Regions from separate parts of the Homo sapiens genome. Here region 1 is linked to region 2. Evidence: fine-mapped expression QTL. A gene starts in region 2. The other region holds a variant in brackets. All regions are shown on one strand. Distances are from middle to middle. Region 1 overlaps SGSM2 (small G protein signaling modulator 2). Region 2 holds the start of SMG6 (SMG6 nonsense mediated mRNA decay factor).

The links.
Region 1: its variant is fine-mapped to the expression of SMG6 in sun-exposed skin (GTEx, PIP 0.93).

The regions. Positions count from the first base shown.
Region 1 is chr17:2,340,011-2,351,983 of GRCh38, reverse strand. It overlaps SGSM2 (small G protein signaling modulator 2), which reads right to left. Exons shown (of 24, transcript NM_014853.3): 2 at 8,364-8,439. Among named protein-coding and RNA genes, the nearest start is that of SGSM2, 8.5 kb to the right of the region's middle. RefSeq lists an enhancer at 3,341-4,278. The variant A/G (reference allele first, on the strand shown) is at 7,296.
Region 2 is chr17:2,300,165-2,312,137 of GRCh38, reverse strand. SMG6 (SMG6 nonsense mediated mRNA decay factor) reads left to right here and starts at 8,353. Exons shown (of 19, transcript NM_017575.5): 1 at 8,353-8,505; 2 at 11,474-11,973. The coding sequence starts at 8,418. It overlaps SRR (serine racemase), which reads right to left and starts at 8,188. Exons shown (of 8, transcript NM_021947.3): 1 at 8,121-8,188. It also overlaps the pseudogene HNRNPA1P16. RefSeq lists silencers at 8,104-8,323, 8,514-8,723 and enhancers at 8,225-8,951, 9,281-10,095.

The DNA.
Region 1 (11,973 bases), 40 kb before region 2:
CTTTACTCAGATGAGCGTTTCTGCGGTAACTAGGGTGCATTTTCTCTCAGCCTGCACTGGTGATACTGGTTGTTTGCTTCAACTTTGGAAGGCATTCAGCCCTGCTCAACCCCCAAAACAAGAAAGCAACATTCGCAACTGGACTCTGATTGGGAGGATAAAGAACTGTCCTGAGGCGGGTAGGTCACTTGAGGTCAGGAGTTTGAGACCAGCCTGGGCAACATGGCGAAACCCCGTCTCTACAAAAATACAAAAAAGTAGCCGAGCGTGGTGGTGCGTAGACCTGCAGACCCAGCTACTCAGGAGGCTGAAGTGAGAGATCGCCTGAACCCAGAACCTAGAACCAAGGAGGGGGAAATGAAATCCATGCTACACATCCCATTGTCCTTGTCCTGCTGGAGATGCAAGACAGGGTCCGCATGCACAGTGCTCATGGCGGCTACCCAGGGAACCAGGCCAGGGCCAGCCTCTCATGCAGTGGACACTGATGTGGGCACACTCAGCTGGCTGGGTAAGGAAGCCACAGTCTCCTAGAGTGTCTCTGGACACCATAAGCCCACAGTTCAATGACCAGAGCTTCGTCTGCATGAGGGCCAACTCCTCAATGCCGCCGCCCCTCTAGTCTCTACTCCTGGGTAGGCCTCACAGGCAGACCAATCCCTGGGCAGCACAGAGTCTGGAGCAAGACAGAGGTGGGTTCAAACACTAGCTCCTCTCCTTTTTTTTTTTTTGAGACTGAGTCTCGATCTATTGCCCAGGTCGGAGTGCAGTGACGTGATCTTGGCTTACTGCAATCTCCGCCTGCCAGGTTCAAGCAATTCTCCTGCCTCAGCCTCCCAAGTAGCTGGGATTACAGGCACCCACCATCATGGCCGGCTAATTTTTGTATTTTTAGTAGAGAAGGGGTTTTACCATGATGGCCAGGCTGGTCTCGAACTCCTGACCTCAAGTGATCCACCCTCCTCAGCCTCCCAAAGTGCTGGGATTACAGGCGTGAGCCACCACGCCCAGCCCACGGGCTCCTCTCCTTACTGGCTGTTTGACTTTGGTCAAGTCACTAAACCTCTCTGAGCTTCTGATGTAATTAGGGAGAAAATCAGGGTCTACCTCAATGGATGCTGGGTGATGAAAAGTAACAGCATATCCCAAGGTGTGAAAGGCTTCTCGGCCCCTGCCTACCACACCGAAGGGGACTGATGAATGCAGGTGCCTTCCCTCCCTGCACCTCATGCCCAGTCCCTGCCTTCCTCTCGTTCCTAGGGATGGTCTAGTTGGACTTGTCTCTGAGGTCACCTTCCACCGGCACGCTGGAGGCTGGAGTGCTGCCCCTGCACCATTTCTTATGTCTTGTTTTTTTGTTTTTTTTGAGACAGAGTCTCACTCTGTCGCCCAGGCTGGAGTACAGTGGTGCAGTGGTACGGTCTCGGCTCACTGCAACCTCCACCACCTGGGTTCAAGCGATTCTCCTGCCTCAGCCTCCCCAGCAGTTGGAATTATAGACGTGCGCCACCACACCCGGCACATTTTTGTATTTTTTGTAGAGACAGGGTTTCACTATATTGGCCAGGCTGGTCTAGAACTCCTGACCTCAGGTGATCCACCTGCCTTGGCCTCTCAAAGTGCTGCGATTACAGGTGTGAGCCACCGCACCCCACCTCCCTTGCACCTTTTCAAAGACGCTCCTCCAGCAAACTTCTCTTCTCTTTTTTATGCCTGCAATTTTTCCCTATTAGATACTTCCCATGTGAATATAAACATTCTAGGCCAAATGCAGTGGCTCACACCTGTAATCCCAGCACTTTGGGAGACCGAGGCAGGTGGATCACCTGAGGTCAGGAGTTTGAGACCAGTCTGGGCATCATGGTGAAATCCCATCTCTACTAAAATACAAAAATTAGGCCAGGCGTGGTGGCTTACGCCTGTAATCCCAGCACTTTGGGAGGCCGAGGTGGGCGGATCACGAGGTCAGGAGATTGAGACCATCCTGGCTAACACGGTGAAACCCCATGTCTACTAAAAATACAAAAAATTAGCCGAGCGTGGTGGTGGGCGCCTGTAGTCCCAGCTACTTGGGAGGCTGAGGCAGGAGAATGGTGTGAACCCGGGAGGCGGAGCTTGCAGTGAGCCAAGACCGCTCCATTGCACTCCAGCCTGGGCGACAGAGGGAGACTCCATCTCAAAAAAAAAAAACAAAACATTTCACTAGGGAAAATTCCAACCATATACAGAAGGAAAAGGGGACAGTATAACAGCTGCCCATGTACTCATTACCCAGCTTCAACAATGATCAAGTCACGACCATCTTGCTTCAGCTCCTCCGCCTGCAACCATTGTTTCCTACCACTGGATTATTCTGAAGCAAATTTTAGACATCATATATATTTATCTCTGAAAGAGGACTCTTAAAAACATGCACTTATACCTCTATTACACTGACAAAATTGGTAACAATTCCTTTATATTATCAAATTTCCTTATTGAGTTCCTGATGTTCAAATTTCTGATTCTCCAGATGCTCCAAACTTCCAGAAACACAGATTCCCAGATGGAATCCTGGGGAAGGCTCGAGGAGGCTTTATAGGAAAGGTTGTAAGGTCACTTTTTTTTTTTAGACCAAGTCTCGCTCTGTCGCCCAGGCTGGAGTGCAGCAGCACAATCTCGCTCACTGAAACCTCCATCTCTCAGGTTCAAGTGATTCTCCTGCCTCAGCCTCCCAAAGAGCTGGGATTACAGGCGTGCACCATGATGCCCAGCTAATTTTTGTATTTTTAGTACAGATGGGGCTTCGCCATTTTGGCCAGGCTGGTCTCGAACTCCTGACCTCAGGTGATCCACCCAGCTGAGCCTCCCAAAGTGCTGGGATTGCAGGCGTGAGCCACTGTGCCCGGCCTATGCTCCCTTTCAAAAACAAAGCAGATGTGGGGTGGGGTGGTGGCTCATGCCTGTAATCCCAGCACTTTGGGAGGCCGAGGCGGGTAGATCACTTGAGGTCAGGAGTTTGAGACCAGCCTGGGCAACATGGCGAAACCCCGTCTCTACAAAAATACAAAAAAGTAGCCGAGTGTGGTGGCGCGTAGACCTGTAGACCCAGCTACTCAGGAGGCTGAAGTGAGAGGATCGCCTGAACCCAGAAGGTCGAGGCTGAGTGAGCTATGATCACACCACTGCACTCCAGCGGGGAGACAGAGTGAGACTCCATCTCAAACAAAACGAAACAAAACAAAATAAAAACCAAAGTAGAATGCGATTGAGCACCTTCTGCATACTCAGATCCATGCTGTGTGTGTTGCCTGCATTGCTCTTCTGTTCCTTACATCTGCCTTCTGGGGTAGGCTCAGAGATGAGTAAGCACGGCTACACACTTCGTGGCACAGCCAGGATGTGAACCCAGGTCTGTGTGACCCCAAAGTCCCAGCTATGAACATCCCCATATGCCCTCCGCAATGCCCCAAGATAGAGTGAGGGGAGTCAGCTCCTTCAGAGCTCCCTCCTTCCTCTTAGATCATTTCTAGATGGAAGGCACGAGTTAGATAGCAAGAGAATGAGCTATTCATTCCCTGTGGGTGGGAAGGAGGAGGAACCCGCTCCTCCTTTTTGTGGCGATGGGGTCTTTTTTGCTCAGGCTGGTCTCGAACTCCTGCAAGGGATCCTCCCACCTCAGCCTCCAGGAATCCCTTTTACTGAAAAGAGACAGGCTGAAGACTGCCTGGAGTCCAAATCTCAGAATGTGCTGAAATATCGCTGGCTGCAATATCCCAGGGGAGAGGCAAGCCTTCCCTAGCACCGGCTTCTCTCCCAGCTTATTAGCATCTCCTTGCCATTCCCTGAAGGAGCTCACTGCAGGGCAGACCTTCCTGGCTAATGAAAGCTGCCTAGCAACAGGGAGCTGGTTAATAAAGCCTGATGTTATTCCCGGCTCCACAGATTCCACCCTTCTCGAATTACAGCTCATCCTCAGTCTGAAGCAACCCTCATGTTGACCCACTTGCACACAGCAGGGCAGGGAATCTGGTGACTGAGGAGGCAGGCTGGTGTCTGCCCCAATCCCTGGGGGGTGGGGAGGCTGAGGTCCTGGGAGATATGATTGGCCTGAGAACCTGCTCTGCCTGGCCAGAAGCCTCTCTGTGAGCCTCTGAAACCTGCTCTACCAGCCAAAGGTTAAAATGCAAACTCAGTGCCCAATCGGAATAGGGTAAATAAAACACTATGGACCTCGGGCGGTGGTATGCACCTGTAATCCCAGTTACTTGGGATGCCAAGGCAGGAGCATACCTGGAGCCCACGAGTTTGAGACCAATCTTGGCAACATAGCAAGACCTCATCTGGAAAAAAAAAAAAAGAAAAAACAAAAGCACCTTCCCCTCCAGGGGAGGGGGCGACAGGAGATACCAGCCTATACTTTAATTCAACAGTAAGTCTTTATATTAAAATGAAAAAAAATCCAAAAACCATATGATAGAGAAAAATGTAAACTTGATGTGATGTTTTAAGATAAAAAGGATAAAAGGATATATCAAAGACCTCTCCCCAACAGTGGTAGTTTTTGGATTTTGTTTAAAAAAAAAAAAAAAAAATGAGGCCGGGTGTGATGGTTCACACCTGTAATCCCAGCACTTTGGGAGGCCAAGGTGGGCAGATCACCTGAGGTCAGGAGTTCGAGACCAGCCTGGCCAACATGGTGAAACCCCTGTCTCTACTAAAAATACAAAAATTAGCTAGGTGTGGTGGCAGGCACCTGTAATCCCAGCTACTCAGGAGGCTGAGGCAGGAGAATTGCTTGAACCTGAGAGGCGGAGGTTGCAGTGAGCTGAGATAGCACCACAGAACTCCAGCCTGGGCAGCAGAGTGAGACTCCGTCTCTAAATAAATAAATAAATAAACAAACAAACGAGACAGGGTCTCTCTCTCTCTCTGTTGCCCAAGCTGGAGGGCAGTGGTGCAATCATAGCTCACTGCAGCCTCAACCTCCCGGGCTCAAGTGATCCTCCTACCTCAGCCTCTGGAGTAGCTGGGACTACAGGCGTGCACCACCATGCCCAGCGAGTTATTTATTTTTTTGTAGAGACTGCATCCTGTAATATTGCCCAGGCTGGTCTCAAGCTTCTGGTCTCAAGGGATCCTCCCGCCTCAGCCTCCCAGAGCACTGGGATTGCAGGTGTGAGTCACCATGCCTGGCCCCATAGTGGTAGTTTTGAGTCCATTCTCCTAGCGCCACCCTCCACTGGCACGGAGGTGGCAGTTACATAGGTTCTGATCCTCGGGCCTGGGAACAGCACACAGAGAACCCCACCCACCCCCCTGCTGCCGCCAGACTGGTTTGCCAGCGAAAACTTCCACACAAGGAAAGTTTCTACTCGCAGGGGCCTACTGCATGTCCAGCTTCTGGACAGACAGGTTTAGGAACAACCACAGCAAACACTCAACAAAGCAATTTTCTAGCCAGTCCTAGGAGTCTTGCCCCTCCCGTTGGGTAACAGGAATGGGGATCTGGCTGCAAACTTTCCTGGGTTTGCCCATGGTCAGGTCTTGACACAGTGATTCTTCAGGAAGGCTCTCCAGGAAGGCTCTGTGTTTTCTGTTTAAATGTCTGCATTCTAAGAAGCTCAGAGAAGCTTGTATTGCCTAGGCCTGGCTCTCCTCAGTCACCCCCAACCCTCCTCTGCCAAGAACCATGGGTCGGTGTGGAGTTGAGGGGCCCAGTACACAAGGGTCCCTTGAAACTAGGGACCGTGGTGTCGCTAGGCTGGTAATCCAGTCTCCACAGACTTCACTCTGCTCTTGACCTCTCAGCACGTTCTCTATACTCCCATTTCTCCCACAACAAAGCTGAATTCGGACGTGGCTAGGACAGTAGCAAGGCACAGTTTAAGTCTGGATCAACTTCAGACTAAAAATGCATTTCAGAGCATTTTTCCAGGGACTGAGGGAGACTGGCACATCAGAATCTCCAAAAAGGCAGAGAGGGGTGGTGTTTTTGATCCATACCTTGCTAGTCTTCCCTCCCCGTCCCCCGCAAGAGTCTCTCGTGATTCCACCATGCAATGCAAGGAAGCTGCTTTGCAGGCAGAGGAAAAAGGTTGATAATCAATGCTTTCAACGAGCCTCAGTTTCAGCCCAAATTGGGATTTAGCTCACCACTGAGCACCAATTTTGACAAAGCATAAGGATTTCTCTGTCTGTAGGCCCTGAGATACCCTGGCCTGACTTAGCCCGATACTGTTGGAACCTCTCCTGCTCCTGTTCTCCGTGACTGTACCGAACCCAAAACAGAGGCTGCACACTGGCAGAGGCTGGCAGATGTCTTTTGTGTGGCCCACACAATTTTTTTTTAAATGGGAATTAGCTGTCAGTATTTAAAAAGTAGGAATTTTTTTTTTTTTTTTTTTTTGAGACAGAGTCTCGCTCTGTCACCCAGGCTGGAGTGCAGTGGCGCGATCTTGGCTCACTGCAAGCTCCGCCTCCCGGGTTCACGCCATTCTCCTGCCTCAGCCTCCTGAGTAGCTGGGACTACAGGCGCCCGCCACCACGCCTGGCTAATTTTTTGTATTTTTAGTAGAGACGGGGTTTCACCGTGTTAGCCAGGATGGTCTCGATCTCCTGACCTCGTGATCCGCCCACCTCCACCTCCCAAAGTGCTGGGATTACAGGCGCCCGCCACCACGCCCTGCTAATTTTTGTATTTTTAGTAGAGACGGGGTTTCACCAAGTTGGCCAGGCTGGTCTCGAACTCCTGACCTCAGGTGATCCACCTGCCTCACCTCCCAAAGTGCTGGGATTACAGGCGTGAGCCACTGTGCCCGGCCGAGAATTCTAATACTCTTCAAAGTTGCTTATCATAATACTGGCATGCCTTTTTTTTTTCCAGAGCATAGGTTCTGCTGAGAAAAACTGAGGTCAGGCTGTGTCTTGTAAACCTAGGAATCATTATTCCACCATCTCAAAGAACTGGGGAAACCTTCCCAAACGGACATGGTATGAACTCAAGTCCTACAAACCTACCTTCAGCCTCAACAGCCAAAGGAGGAGAGACGAATATTCTTTGAGTGCTTACAATGCTACGAACGAATGAACATTTACACACATCATCTCAATCCCCACGAAAGTTCCTTGAGGTGGGAATCATCAGTCTGTTTTTAGAGGAGCAAACTGAGGGTGAGAGAAGTTAAGAAACTTGTCCAAGACGACTTAAAAGGCAGGACGCCAGGATTCAAACCCCAGTCTGTCACTCAGACTCTGCTCAGAGGCTGCCTCTCCGACTGCCCTCCCACATGTTTTTTCTTCCTAGCTCTTATCAC[A/G]TGCCAAGTTATTGGATGACATATTTACTTGCGCATTTGTTTCCTGTCTGTCTCCCCAACAGAATGTAAGCTCCTGCGGCAGAGACTCTGTCCATCTTGTCACTGCCATTTCCTTGCACGGTGAACGGTGTCTGGCACCTGGTGAGCCCTTGGTGGGGATCTGCTGCTGGATGAGGGGAAGGGCAGCTGTATCTGCTGTGCCACACTACCGTCCAAAGCATCCCTTCCCTTATCTGTTCTTTCATTATTTTCCCTCCACAAACCCCAACACCAATCTCAGAGGCCAAGGAATACAACACAGAGAAGGTGAATGGTTCCCTGTCCCTTCAGATGGGGGGTTGAGAGGAAGCTGAAATTCCTAGAAATCCAAGAAGAGTCTGTGCGTAGGGATAGGCTTGCTCCTACAAAGCAAAAGTCTTCAGGCTGAGGAGGCGGAAATGGTTTATAAGCGACTCTCTCCTTTCTGGGGCTGGAAGGCTTGGCCACACTGAGAAGGAGGTGATGAGAGAGTCCCTTCTGAGGCTGGAAGCCTTAGCCACCTCTCCTAGCCCACGCTCAGGCTCCTTTGCATCCAGTCAAGGGCTTGGGGTTAGGATCATGGAGCAACACGGGTGGGAAACAAAGGGAAAGTGGCACAGAGCATCCGAAAAGCACAAACCCCTCCCTGAAGTCAAAATCAAAATCAGTCAGAGCACTGGTTCCTGAACTCAAATGACCTAGGGCAGCGGCTCTCAAAGTGGGGTCCCCAGACCTACTAGAATCAGAAACTCCAGGGTTGGGACCCAGAAATCTGTGTTCTACCAAGCCCTTCAGGTGACTCTGATACATGCTAAAATGTGAGAATTACTATCCTGGGGAACAAAAAATACGCAGATTCTTGACCCCTGAAGAACCTGATTTAGTAGGTCTGCAAATGGGGCCAAAGAGGATTTCAAAAGCTTCCAGGTTGATTTGGACTTGCAGCCAGATTTGAGAGCTACTGCACCTGAGGACTCATCTTTTCCTGGCCCCAGGCCAGTGTCCTCGGCTCTAGACCGACCTCCCATCATCCTTCAGTCACTCACTCACCACATAAAGCAATGATGTGGCTGCTGTCTTCATGCACAAACTTCCTGGTGACAGCCTCCTCCATGATTTGCTTCACCTGCGGACACATGGACAGCATCACTGCTTTTATTATTTTCCCTTATCAAAGACCTCTGGGCAAATAAATAGTTTGGTTCCGCCCTTCTGGTCTGAAGGGCACTTTCAGACACTTGCAGAGATGACAGGGATGAAAGGTGTGGGGAAGCAAAGTTTCTTCAGCACAGTCTGATTCCAGTCTTTTGGAGGGGAAACCAGGGAAAGAGATGCCAAAAACCCATCAAACAATCAGTGCATGTTCCAGCCCAGGTGGAAGTGCCCTGCCTTGGAGAACAGGAATAGGATGCTGTTTGCTCATCTGTTCTCAGCTCACGAAGGGCTTCTGGGCAGATATACTGTCCTTTAGAGACAAACCATCTCGGTACAGCCTGCAGATAAACAACCTGCCCCTCCTCCTTTTCTCCCTATTCTCCAAGGTTAGGGGTAGGTCTCATACCTCAGGGACACCCTCTACATGCTCAAAAGCCCAGCCTTCTTTCCATCTAGGGTCTAGAACTCTGATGTTTGGGGTTCCCACCTGGATGTAAAAGTTCCCAAATACCTTGTAAGGTAAACAGTCATTTTTTTTTGAGATGGAGTCTCGCTCTGTTGCCCAGGCTGGAGTACAGTGGCGTGATCTCGGCTCACTGCAGCCTCTGCCTCCCGGGTTCAAGCGATTCTCCTGCCTCAGCCTCCCGAGTAGCTGGGACAACAGGTGCATGCCACCACGCCCTGCTAATTTTTGTATTTTTAGTAACGATGGGGTTTCACCATATTGGTCAGGCTGGTCTTGAACGCCTGACCTCAGGTGATCCACCCGCCCGGCCTCCCAAAGTGCTGGGATTACAGGCGTGAGCCACTGTGCTCAGTCATTTCTTTAAGAAAGCACTTAAAAAGAAATCTTTTTAACTGATGTGCAGTAAACATATAAAAGAACATATCACAATTACACAGCGTGGTGAATTTTCACAAACTGAACACTCCTGTGAAATCAGCAACTAGAGCAAGAAACAGAACATGTGACCAACACCCTCGCCTCATCACCTTCCCTTCTAGTCACTATTCCCCCTAAGGGTACCCACTCTCCTGATTCCAACACGACAGTTTTGTGGGTTTTTATACTTTTTTTGTTTGTTTGTTTCTGAAATGGAGTTTCGCTCTTTTGCCCAGGCTGGAGTGAAGTGGCGCGTTCTCAGCTCACTGCAACCTCCAACTCCCGGGTTCAAGAGATTCTCCTGCCTCAGCCTCCACAGTAGCCGGGATTACAGGCATGCACCACCACACCTGGCTTTTTTTTTTTTTTTTGTATTTTTAGTAGAGACGGGGTTTCTCCATGTTGGCCAGGCTGGTCTTGAACTCCTGACCTCGGTGATCCACCCGCGTTGGCCTCCCAAAGTGCTGGGATTACAGGTGTGAGCCGCCACCACACCCGGCCTGGGTTTTTATACTTTTTATAAGTGGAATCACTCAGCGTGTAGTGTTTTGTGACTAGTTTCTTTTGCTCACCTGTGTCATTCTGAAATTTGTTCATGTTGTGTATAGCTGTAGATTGTTCATTCTCCGTGCGCGTTGTGTACAGTTGTAGGTTGTTCACTCTCCGTGGTGTGAACGTACAAACACCCGGCGTTTGGGTGGTTTCCAGTTTGGGGCTGTTATGGATACTGCTGCTGTGAACATTGAGGACTGTCTTCTGGTGAACAAATGTTTGGGATTTATGTTTCTAGGCAAGGAATGTCTGATGCACACACTTTATTAGATATTGCCAAATTGTTCTCCAAAGTTGGTTATACCACTTTACACTCCCATGTATGAGGTTCTGGTGGTTCCCAACATTTAACCCAAACTCTGTTGATGTCCTGGGAGAACCTGCTAGCAGGCAGTCCTAGTACTGGAGATTATAGAGATTACCTAGTGCAGAATGTTACACATAAAGTGAGCCTTGGGTAGAGCTAGTCTTCCCCATTCTTTAGACAGGAATGTAATGTTCTGATGCTGTCCAGGTTCCCAAGACCCTTAGTCAAGACTGTATAGTTTGGAGGGTGGTAGAACCTCAAAAGCCTGGGGAGGCGGGAAGAAGGACCTGGAGGCCCCTCCCTGCCGGAAACTGCTAATGGTTAGTGCTCAGGTAAAAGGGGATCAGATCAATTAATGCAAATGCACTCTAAGCTGTTAAAAGCTTCCTAGACGGCTGGGCATGGTGGCTCACGCCTGTAATCCCAGCACTTTGGGAGGATCAGGCTGACCAAAATGGTGAAACCCCATTTCTACTAAAAATACAAAAATTAGCCAAGCATGGTGGTGGGTGCCAGTAATCCCAGCTACTCAAGAGGCTGAGGCAGAAGAATCACTTGAACCCGGAGGCAGAGGTTGCAGTGAGCTGAGATCGCACTCCAGCCTGGGCAACAAGAGTGAAACTCTATCTCAAAAAAACAAACAAACAAACAAAAAAAACTTCCTAGATTACCTCCCAAGGATGTTAGCATTCAACAGAGGATAATGTCACAGCTAAAGACCTGGAGGCATCTGAAGCAGGCTGATGGGGAGGATTTTTGGGTTGAAGGATCTGCAGATACCCCTAGAATTATACCAGTGGTCCTTTGTGAAAGGCCAGCCTGGTCTACCAATATTCCTGTTGTTTTTCCTTGCAGAAGGGACAGGATGTTTCTGTAGAAATTAAACACTGGGCCAGGCGTGGTGGCTCACGACTATAATCCCAGCACTTTGGGAGGCCAAGGTGGGCGGATCACGAGGTCAGGAGATCGAGACCATCCTGGCTAACATGGTGAAACCCCGTCTCTACTAAAAATACAAAAAATTAGCCGGGCGTGGTGGCAGGCGCCTGTAGTCCCAGCTACTCAGAAGGCTGAGGCAGGAGAAAGGCGTGAACCCGGGAGGCGGAGCTTGCAGTGAGCTGAGATGGCGCCACGGCACTCCAGCCTGGGCAACAGAGCGAGACTCCATCTCAAAAAAAAAAAAAGAAATCAAACACTGAAGGAGGAAAGGAGAAACATGAGTTCAGAGCAGGTCAACTTTTGTCAGGAATGATACGTAGCTGTGGCATATTCTGACATTTCTCACATTTTCTTAGGAATCACTTTTGGAGCAGTATAGTCCAGTTTCTAAGCACTGGTGGAAAAAGTCATCATCCTCTTAAAAAATATTTCCTGGCGGTCGCAGTGGCTCATGCCTGTAATCCCAGCACCTTGGGAGGCCAAGGCGAGGTCAGGAGATCGAGACTATCCTGGCCAACATGGTGAAACCCCATCTCTACTAAAATACGAAAAATTAGCTGGGTGTGGTGGCATGTGCCTGTAGTCCCAGCTACTTGGGAGGCTGAGGCAGGGAAATCGCTTGAACCCAGGAGCTGGAGGTTGCAGTGAGCTGAGATCGCACCACTGCACTCCAGCCTGGCGACAGAGCAAGACTCCGTCTCCAAAAAAAAAAAAAAGTATTTCCCATTATCTGTGACTAACCTCCAAAATTGAGCCATATCTATAATCCCAGCATATCCACCTCAAGTGTAGACACAAGTACTTTTCTATTTTGTTTACACTGT
Region 2 (11,973 bases):
CTCAAGTGATCTTCCCGCCTCAGCCTCCCAAGTACCTGGGACTATGACTGTGCACCACCATACCCAGCTAATTTTTTAAATTTTTATTTTAGTAGAGAGGAAGTCTTGCTGTGTTGCCCAGGCTGGTCTCAAACCCCTGAGCTCAAGTGATCCTTCCGCCTTGGCCTTCCAAAGTGCTGGGATTACAGGCATGAGGCACCACACCCAGCCTTCTTAACACACCATTTACTGACAGAATCCTTTTCCTCTGAAATGCTCTATTTATCAAAAATTAAATTTCTATGAATGGTTGGGGCTATTGTATTTTGTTCCATTGGCCAGACTGCCAATGTCTTTTCCTATTATATACTGTATTAATAAATTCTCCCTTGATTGCTCTAAAATTCATTGGCTTTTCTCACATATCAATTCTTTCAGGTGAACTAGAATTACTTTATCAAAGTTGCCAGAAATTCCATTGTAAAGATGTATAAATGAATTGGAGGCATTATTTATTTACTGAGACGGGGTCTCTTGTCGTCCAGGCTGGAGTGCATTGGCATGATCTCAGCTCACTGCAACCTCTGCCTCCCAGGCTCAGGCAATCCTCTCACCTCAGCCTCCTGAGTAGCTGGGACCACAGGTGCACTGTGCCACCACAAATACAAAAAACGTCTGTATTTTTTGTAGAGACAAGGTTTTGCCATGTTGCCCAGGCTGGTCTTGACCTTCTGAGCTCAAGTGATCCACCCACCTTGGCCTCCCAAAGTGCTGGGATTACAGGCGTGAGCCACCATGACGGGCCCGAAAACTCAATATTTTTTAATGTCAATTATGCCCCCTCGGCTGGGCACAGTGGCAGGAGGATTGCTTAAACCCAGGAGTTCAAGGCTGCAGTGAGTTATTGTACCACTGCAAGAGCAAGACCCTGTCTCTTAAAAACAAAAAAACAAGAGAACAAAAAATAGTTGGCTGGGCGTGGTGGCTCTTGCCTGTAATCCCAGCACTTTTGGAGGCCAAAGCAAGTGGATCACTTGAGATCAGGAGTTCAGGAGTTTGAGACCAGACTGACTAACATAGTAAAATCCCGTCTCCATTAAAAAAACAAAAATTGGCCGGGCGTGGTGGGTCACGCCTGTAATCCCAGCACTTTGGGAGGCTGAGGTGGGAAGATCACAAGGTCAGGAGATCGAGACCATCCTGGCTAACATGGTGAAACCCTGTCTCTACTAAAAATACAAAAAATTAGCCGGGCATGGTGGCGGGCACCTGTAGTCCCAGCTACTCGGGAGGCTGAGGCAGGAGAATGGCATGAACCCGGGAGGCGGAGTTTGCAGTGAGCCAAGATCATGCCACTGCACTCCAGCCTGGGTGACAGAGCAAGACTCTGTCTCAAACAAACAAACAAAAAAATTAGCCAGGAGTAGTGGCATTTGCCTGTAGTCCCAGCTACTAGGGAGGCTGAGGCAGAAAAATCGCTTGAACCTGGAAGGCAAAGGTTGCAGTAAGCCGAGAATGTTCCACTGCACTCCAGCCTGGGCGACAGAGTGAGACTCTGTCTCAAAAAAAAAACAACAACCAAAAATCCCAAAAAACCATGCCAGGCCTGAAGTCTCAATATTTTTATGAATAAATGTCAATTATGCCCCCTTGGCAGGATGCAGTGGCTCATACCTGTAATCCCAGCACTTTAGGTGGGCGGACTGCTTGAGCTCAGGAATTTAAGACCAGCCTGGGCAACACGTTGAAACCCTATCTCTACCAAAAATACAAAAATTAGCCGTGCAGGTGGCAGGCGCCTGTAGTGGTAATTCTACAGTAAACAGTATGGTGCTTCCTCAAAAAATTGAACATAGAATCATCCTATGATCTACCGATTCCATTCCTACATGTAGACCCTGTCTCTCAACAACAAAACCCAGAATACAAAAAACCCACTATCAAAAATAAGATATATTTTGGAGGTTGTAAACAGTTAGTCCTCTTAGTTGCAAGTGATAGAACCTCAATTTGTACTACCTTAGTAGGCACAAGGTGGAGGTGTTGAGATTTACTAGCTCATGGAATCCATGAAGAAATGAACAAACCATGGTAAGGGGAGGAATATGGAGCTTCAGGAACTACTGGAACCAGAGATTTGACAGCTTCCCAGACTCTTAGTCTCTCACCTCTGCTGCTTTCTGCACGTCGGCTTCTTTTTCACACAGGCGAGTTGGTTCCATATGGAACCAACTGACACGTGGCTGCTGACAGCTCGTATGTTTTACATTTTATGGCTTCCACACTGAAGGGGAATTTTCTTTCTCAGTTTCAGTTAAAAAAATTCTGGGTAAGGACTCTGGCCCATCTTGGCCCAGGACCAGTGGCCAGGGTATGAGGTCACTGAAGATAACAGTGTGCAATAGTCAGAAGTATTTACATAAACATGAAAAAGAAACAGAATGAGATCTGTAACACAGTATCAATTAGGTACATTTAAAACACATACATACATAAAACATTACATATTATTCAAAGATACATGTATATTCAAAGACATATATCAAACACATTAGAGTGAATACCTAAGGAGGGAGGAAAGGAACATTAGTGGGAACTGGAATGAAGAGAAAAGATAAAATGAGAAAGGGCTTGTTAATGACAGTGTGAATAAACGAGTATGACTGGCTCAATTCTCTGCACCTGAGGGGAAAATAGCAAAATAAAGGAGTGACACAGGAAAGAAAACAAAGAAAAGAAAAAAGTACTTTTGAGTGGGAGTAAGGGGCATTTTCCAAGTGAAAATAAAGGGGAGAATGCTGGGGAGATGATTCCATACATGTTCATTATAGGAACAGAAGAGACATATCCTGATAGTGGATTGAATGGGGGAGAGAAGTGTGAAGAATAAATCCTGGGCCAGGCCTGGTGGCTCACACCTGTAATCCCAACACTTTGGAAGGCCAAGGTGGGAAGATTGCCAGAGGCAAGGAGTTTGAGACCAGCCTGGGCAACACAGGGAAACCCTGCCTCTACAAATTATTATTATTATTATTATTTTGAGATGGAGTTTCGCTCTTGTTGCCCAGGCTGGAGTGCAATGGGGCAATCTCAGCTCACTGCAACCTCCGCCTCCCGGATTCAAGCGATTCTCCTGCCTCAGCCTCCCAAGTAGCTGGGATTACAGGCATGTAGCACCACACCTGGCTAATGTTTTGTATTTAGTAGGGACAGGGTTTCACCATGTTGGTCAGGCTGGTCTCGAACTCCTGACCTCAGATGATCCACCTGCCTCAGCCTCCCAAAGTGCTGGGATTACAGGTATGAGCCACCACACCCGGCCAATATTTTTATTTTTTTGAGATGGAGTCTCACTCTGTCACCAGGCTGGAGTGCAGTGGTGCGATCTTGGCTCACTGCAACCTCTGCCTCTTGGGTTCAAGTGATTCTCCTACCTCAGCCTCCCAAGTAGCTGAGATTACAGGAGCGTGCCACCATGCCCAGCTAATTGGCCAGGATAGTCTTGATCTCTTGACCTTGTGATCCACCCACCTCGGCCTCCCAAAGTACTGGGATTACAGGTGTGAGCCACCGTGCCCAGCCAAAAATTTTTCTTTAAAAAGAGTAACTCCTGGGTTTTGACTTAAATGGTGGTACAATTTGTTGAGATTTAAAACAGGAGAAGAAATAAGTATTTGACAGGAAAATCAGATTTGATTAGCTAAGTTTGAATTGTTTATGAAACATCCAAGAGGATGTCCCTTTTTTAAAAATTATTTTTTGCCAGAAATGTGTGTATATTAGTATCTGCTTTATTTCTGAAGAATGAGCTTTTCAATCTATTTAAAGTACAGCTCTTTTTCCCTTATTTCTGATTGTTTACTCTGCCATTTTCCTTTAATTGTCTTCTATATTTGTTGAATGCTTAGCTTACTAATTTTCACTTTAAAAAGAAAGCATATAAGGTTACTTATAGGATTTTTCCTCTGAGAAGTGCTTTAATATCATGGATTCCATTATGCAATATTTTCATTATTATAATTTCTAAATAATCCAAGATTTTAGTCTTGTTTTCTTTTTTGACCCATGAATTATTTAAAATTGGTGGTTTTTTTGTTGTTTTTTTTTTTTAAAAAGACATTTATTCAGTGTCACGATCAGACTATTACATTTAGCAATCAACAGCTTGGGTGCAAAAAAAAAAAATACATTAAAACCCTTTGTTGGAATGCTTTACACTTTCCACAGAACAGAAACTAAAACAACCTGTTATACAACTAGTCACAAATACAGTCTTCGAGTTTTTTGCCCATACACATGAGTATTTGTCTAAAACATATCTTCTTTGTAGCAGCTAGGCCCTGCCACCACTGTGCTTGGCTTAGTTCACAAATCTGTTGTAACCTGTAGCTTCCCTGTCACTTCGCTGGCTCTCCTCTCATGCTAAGCTTTGTTGCCTAATTAAAATCTTCCGCCACTGCCATAGCTACTGCTGCTACTGGAACCGCCATAGCCACCTTGGTTTCGTGGTTTGGTAAAGTATTGGCCTGCACCACCATAGGGGCCAGAGCTTCTGCCTCCAAAGTTTCCTCCCTTCATGGGTCCAAAAATTGAAGACTAATTGTTGTAATTGCCAAAATCATTGTAGCTTCCACCTCCAAAATTGCTTCCATCATTACCAAATCCATTATAGCCATCCCCACTGCACGATATCCACCACCACCACAGCTGCCACCAAAGCCACCATGACCACTGAAATTTCCTTCACAACCAAAGTTGTCATTCCTACCGAAACCACCTCCACGACCACCACCAAAGTTTCCAGAAGTACTTTGACCTCTTTGGCTGGATGAAGCACTCACCATCTCTTGCTTTGACAGGCCTTTCCTAATTTCACAGTTGTGGCCATTCACAGTATGGTATTTCTGAATGACAGTCTTATCCACGGAGTCATGATCATCAAAGGTTACAAAGGCAAAGCCCCTTTTCTTGCCACTGCCTTGGTCAGTCATGATTTCAATCACTTCAGTTTTTCCATACTGTTCAAAATAATCACTTAGGTGATATTCTTCAGTGTCTTCGTTAATGCCACCAACAAATATCTTTTCCATAGTTAAGTGGGCATCTGGTCTTTGAGAATCTTCTCTTGAGACAGCTCTCTTTGGTTCCACAACTCTTCCATCCACCTTGTGTGGCCTTGCATTCGTGGCTGCATCCACCTCCTCCTCAGTGGCATATGTGGCAAATCCAAAGCCCCTGGAGTGCTTGGTGTTTGGATCTCTCATTACCACACAGTCCGCGAGTGTTCCCCATTGCTCAGAATGGCTCCTCAGGCTCTCATTGGTTGTTTCAAAGCTCAGCCCTCCAATGAAGAGCTTCTTCAGCTGTACGAGCTCTTTAGGAGACTCTGACTTAGACTTGGCGGTGTCCATGGGTGGAAAGTGTTTGTTTTGTTTTATTTTTGAGACAGAGTCTCTATCTGTCACCCAGGCTGGAGTGCAGTGGCGTGATCTCGGCTCACTGCAGCCTCTACCTCCTTGGTTCAAGTGATTCTCCTGCCTCAGTCTCCCAAGTAGCTGGGATTACAGGCACCCACCACCACGCCCGGCTAGTTTTTGTATTTTTAGTAGAGACGGGGTTTCGCCATGTTGGCCAGGCTGGTCTCGAACTCCTGACCTCAAGTGATCTGCCCACCTTGGCCTCCCAAAGTGCTGGGATTACAGGCATGAGCCACGGGGCCTGGCCTAAAATTGTTGTTTTTAAAAAAATTCCAAATGGTTAGAATGTTTTGCTTCATTTGTGGCTATTCACTTCTAGTTTTATTACTTTGTGCTAAGTAAATATGACCTGTACAATTTTTTTTTTTGACGGAGTCTCACTCTGTCGCCCAGGCTGGAGTGCAGTGGAGCAATCTCGGCTCGCTGCAACCTCTGCCTCCCAGGTTCAAGCAGTTCTCCTGCCTGAGCGTCCCAAGTAGCTGGGACTACAGGTGCCCGCCACCACACCCAGCTAATTTTTTTGTATTTTAGTAGAGATGGGGTTTCATCTTGCCCAAGCTGGTTGGGAACTCCTGAGCTCAGGCAATCTGCCCACCTCGGCCTCCCAAAGTGCTGGGATTACAGGCGTGAGCCACCGCGCCCGGCCAACTTGTACAATTTTTACTTTTAGAAACTGAATTCAAGGCTGGGCGCGGTGGCTCACGCCTGTAATCCCAGCACTTTAGGAGGTTGAGGCGGGTGGATCACCTGAGGTCAGGAGTTCGAGACCAGACTGGTCAACATGGTGAAACCCCATCTCTACTAAAAATACAAAAAATTAGCTGGGCATGGTGGTGGGCGCCTGTAATACCAGCTACTCAGGAGGCTGAGGCAAGAGAATTGCTTGAAACCAGGAGGCAGGTTGCAGTGAGCCAAGATTGTGCCACTGCACTCCAGCCTGGGCAACAAGAGTGAAACTCCGTCTCAAAAAAAACGAAAAACAAAAAATCTCAGCAGCTTTCATTGTGATACTGACTTAAATATGGTTGTCTTTCTTGTCATTTCTTTTTACCTGGTATTTCATGAATTCTTTAAATCTGATAATTCAAAAATTTCCACCAACGTAGTAAATTTTCTTCTACTATTTGATTATTGCTCTTCTGCAGTCAGCTGTATTATCCCCTTCTGGAACTCGTATTTAATTATTAATTTTTTGTACCCCTTCTCCATGTCTCCTATCTTTGTCTCTCAGTTTTTATCTATTACCTTTTCCTTCTGAGTTCTGGTAAATTTTCTTGAACTGGTTTAACTTTTGGCATATCTAATCTGCAGTTCACTGACACTGTTGCATTAAATGGGTGGTGCCATTTGTCCTAAGAAAGTTTTCTTGTTTTCCATTATTTTTCCAGCTGAAAAAAGAAATCATGCAATGGCCTCTCAAATTTCAATATGAAACAGATTATTTTTTAACGCTTCTTCCTATTTCTCTCAAATCTGGTGGCAAAGGCTGTCTTCTGCTCTGACCACTCAAATGGTTCCTCTTCTGAACTGTTGGATCTTTTCACCCATCATCTACTGACTTTCTTCTTATGCTTAACCTTCCGGTGACAAAGTGTCACGTAAAAGGAACTGAAGGAGTTCTGTCAGAGGTTGTGGCAATCCCTTCGGCTCAGACTAAGGAATAATTGGTAACTATTCTGTGATGGGTGTGGGGTAAAAGCCTATGGGGCTGTGGAGGGGCAACAGGTGGAGGCAGGAGGCCTTGGGGAAGGGAGCTTCACCTCTGTACAGTTCTCCAAAAAAAGATTCAAGTACCAGCCTTCTGGTATAGTTCAATTTTAAAGATGGGAAATTAAAAAGTCAACCTGAGATCCACAGCAGTAATTTTTTTCAAGAATCCATAGTGACACAGAAATTCCCAAATTGACTTTTTTTTTTTTTTGAGGCGGAGTCTCGCTCTGTTGGAGACTCCCGGGCTGGAGTGCAGTGGCGCGATCTCGGCTCACTGCAGTCTCCGCCTCCCGGGTTCAAGCGATCCGCCCGTCTCAGCGTTCCGAGTCGCCGGGATTACAGGTCCCAAATGGACTTATATGCCTCCTGATGTACTTCCTTCCACACGATTCCAACTATATCGTATCTAGTTTTTAAAAGTCAGGGGGCGGCCGGGCGCGGTGGCTCACGCCTGTAATCCCAGCACTTTGGGAGGCCGACGCGGGTGGATCACCTGAGGTCAGGAGTTCGAGACCAGCCTAGTGAAACCCCGTCTCTACAAAAAATACAAAAATTAGCCGGGCTTGGTGGCGTGCACCTGTAATCCCAGCTACTAGGGAGGCTGAGGCAGGAGAATCGCTTGAATCCAGGAGGCAGAGGTTGCAGTGAGCCGAGACCGCGCCACTGCACTCCAGCCCGGGAGTCTCCAACAGAGCGAGACTCCAACTAAAAAAAAAAGGGAATAGTAACAACTACTCTTAGCAGATCTTCAAGGTCCCAAGTAATGGCCCGCGGCGCTAGGCCGGGCCTGTGGCGGGAGAGCCTGGCCTAAGGTGTCCAGAGGAGCCCAGGCTGAGGGGTGTCTCTGTCAACCCGAGTCCCAGACTAGCAGTGTCCTTGGTGTCCACGACAACAGCAACGGCAGCCACCGCCGCAAACGCCCGCCTGGCCTGGCACGGCCCGGCCTCGCCTCACCTCAGCTCACCGGCGCCGCGCCTCCAGCTCCAGCCTCCGCGCGCCTCCCCGGCCGCACCTCTGCGCACGCGCAGCGCCCGCCCGCCCCACCCAGGCTCTCGCTCCGGTCCCGCCCCTCTGGAACCGGCGGCGGGCGCTTTTCCTCCCAGCGCGGCCACCGTCGTTCGGAAAGGGAGGGCGGCAGGGGGCGGGGAAAGGCCGGGAGGTGGGCGAGCGCGCGCGCCGCCCGTCTGTGGTGGTTTCCTGGCTGCGCGCGGCGGTGGCGGAGCCGCTACGGCTGTAGCAGCAGCCGCGAAGATGGCGGAAGGGCTGGAGCGTGTGCGGATCTCCGCGTCGGAGCTGCGCGGGATCCTGGCTACTCTGGCCCCGCAGGCCGGGAGCAGAGGTGAGTCGCGCCGCCCAGCTCCTGGGCCGGGCCTGCCCGCCCCGCCTCCCTCTCCTCCTCCTCTGCCTCCTCCCCGCTCGGCCCTCGGCTCCGGAGCCCCCGCCCCTTCCCCCAGCAGTAGGCGCTGGGGCCGCGGCGGACCCTCGCTGCCCTACCTCTCTCGCGGGTTAGTGCGGGGTCGGGCTCGGCCAGTCCTGGCCAGCTCCGGGAGAGCCTGGCCCGAATTCCTGCCTCCACCCTCTTTCTCGCCGCGAAGGTGACTGTTCCTTTTGCCCCAGCCCTCTCAGACCCGCCCCGGATTCCCAGGCATCGGGAGACGCGGAAAGGAGTGGGGTCTGGTGGAGGCCCCGGGCGTATCGCTCTCCAGGCCGCCCTCCGCGGGCCTGCCCCGGCCACCGCTTTAACGTCGGAGAGAAGGAATTGGGGAGAAAGGTTTAAGAGCCTGCGACTTCGTTGCTGAACTTTTCCCCCCCAAGACAGGCTTCCGAAAGCTGCGCCACTGGAGGGATCCGGGACCTCAGACTACTCGGGTTTGGCCCTGGCATGTGTGGGAGCAGTTTTTATTAGAGAGAATGCTCAATTTGCAAGTTAATTTCAAGTCTCCAGCCACGTCAGGAAAGTAAGAAAGATTCTAAGTGTCTCACCTCTCCTGCGTTAGGCAATAGAGTTGTGTAGAATGGTAGCTGTGATAGGTGCCTTCTCTAGGTTTGCGGCCAGTCTGTGAAATTGGTTTTTGTTGATTAACATAATTGGATTATTAAGGCTATTTTCTCCCGCTGCTCTAGAAAGTAGTAGGAATAGCTTTCCCCATCCCCCCGCCCCCCACCAAGTTACAGACTGCCGAGGGTGAGCTATTCTTGGGTTAAACTGCTTTATCTTTGTGGATACTTCATGAACCTACCTTTTAAACTTATGAAAATAGTGAAGCACTATCCAAAACCTCAGTCTCTTTTCTTCCCCTTTTCCTTACACCTACAAACAGTAAATGTACTTGCTGGAGCATATGATTCCTGTTTTGGGCTTGTTTCCATTTATATTTAGAGAGCAATACTAGGATTAAAAACTTTTTTATTGTTGTTATTATTATTTTTTGAGACGGAGTCTAGCTCTGTCGCCCAGGCTGGAGTGCAGTGGCGCGATCTCTGCTCACTGCAACCTCCGCCTCCCGGGTTCACGCCATTCTCCTACCTCAGCCTCCCCAGTAGCTTGGACTGTAGGCGTGTGCCACCACGCCTGGCTAATTTTTTGTATTTTTGTAGTGACGGGGTTTCTCCGTGTTGGCCAGGATGGTCTGGACTCCTGTCCTCGTGATCCGCCCGCCTTGGCCTCCCAAAGTGCTGGGATTACAGGCGTGAGCCACCGTGCCCGGCCAATTTTTTTGAGGCAGGGTCTCACTCTGTCTTCCAGGCTGGAGTGCAGTGGAGGGATCTCAGCTCACTGTAGCCTCCCCCTCCTGTGCTCAAGTGATCCTCCCACCTCAGCCTTCCGAGTAGCTGGAATTACAGACCTGCACCACCACACCTGGCTATTTTTTGTATACGTTATAGAGACAGGGTGTTGCCATGTTGCCCAGGCTGATCTCGAACTCCTGGCCTCAAGCAGTCCTCCCGCCTCAGCCTCCCAAAGTGCTGGGATTATAGGCGTGAGCTACTGCACCTGGCCTATGCTAGGATTTTATATAGCATTCCATTTGTGTACTTGATAATATTCTCCCGAATTCTGTCACTTTTCCATTGTAATGTTTAGTGGTTACTTTTGATAACGGTAACAGATACTTTTTTAAAAAACCAGATACTTAAGTAAGTATCTGTCCGCTGGGCTGGAGTGCACTGGCGCGATCTCCGCGTACTGCAAGCTCCGCCTCCTGGGTTCACGCTATTCTCCTGCCTCAGCTTCCCGAGTAGCTGGGACTACAGGCGCCCACCACCACGCCCGGCTAATTTTTTGTATTTTTTGTTGAGACGGGGTTTCACCGTGTTAGCCAGGATGGTCTCGATCTCCTGACCTCGTGATCCACCCACCACGGCCTCCCAAAGTGCTGGGATTACAGGCGTGACCCACCGCGCCCGGCCGAGAGTGGTTTCTAAAGTCCTGTATTATTCTTAATTCTTGAGTTCCCAGTTGTTGGCATTTTGAGAGTATGTCACAATCTTTCCATCAGCATCCAGGGAAAGTTCCCTTATGGAACTTTTTTCTAATAATTCCATCATCACAGTAGCAGTTAGTGTCAGTATTCTAGTATGATAGTCTGAGCAGTATTTTGGTAACTCTGTGAGCTACTGTTAGTGAGTTGGTGAGGATGGGTGAAGTTGAAGAATGGGAAAAGAACTGCTTGCTGTTTAATTCACCAGCAGGTATGTTATTTGGTAATTGGTATCTTGAAGAAGAGAATCATCCTGGTCAAGTTTAAAGACTAAAGTTGCATTTTTTTTCTCCAGAGATGTCCAGGACTGATAATTGTTATAATACCCTCCCTCCTTTTTCTCCTTTTTTACTTCTTCCTCCTGCTGTTATGTTAAAAGAACTTAGCCACCCAGGAAAAAGTTAGAGGCGGAAGAAAAGGCTGAGGTGGATTCACAGGCTCTATAGATAGAGAACAGTGTAGTGCTGAAAAGGTTAGAGAGGTCTTTTGTTCTGACAATAATGAGGTAGTTTGGGATCTTGGATTTCTGAATATGACTTGGATGACACATAAGGAGATGGGTTTCCCCCATTTCACTTACCCAAGTGTAGGTAGCCCCAACACAGTTAGGTCCTTAGCCTTGTGAATTGTTGAACAAGTGTTGTAAACCCAGAATTTCTGCTTCTACAGAAATGTCCTTCTTTGCCTACCAGTATTAGCATTTGGATATGTAATTCTTGCTCGACTTTTTTTGTTACTTAACCAGAATGACAGTCTTTCCCCTATCTTCCTTCTTTATTCTTATCTTCTACCTTTCCCTCCCAAACTCTTTCCCCGACATAACAGAAAACATGAAGGAATTAAAGGAGGCCAGGCCGCGCAAAGATAACAGGCGTCCAGATCTGGAAATCTATAAGCCTGGCCTTTCTCGGCTAAGGAACAAGCCCAAAATCAAGGAACCCCCTGGGAGTGAGGAATTCAAAGATGAAATTGTTAATGACCGAGATTGCTCTGCTGTTGAAAATGGTACACAGCCCGTTAAAGATGTCTGCAAGGAACTGAACAACCAAGAGCAGAATGGTCCTATAGACCCAGAAAATAATCGGGGACAAGAATCCTTTCCTAGGACTGCTGGACAAGAGGATCGTAGTCTAAAAATTATCAAAAGAACAAAGAAACCCGACCTGCAGATCTATCAGCCTGGACGACGTTTGCAGACTGTTAGCAAAGAATCCGCCAGTCGGGTGGAGGAGGAAGAAGTCCTCAACCAGGTAGAACAACTGAGAGTAGAGGAAGATGAGTGTAGGGGAAATGTTGCGAAGGAGGAAGTTGCGAATAAACCAGAC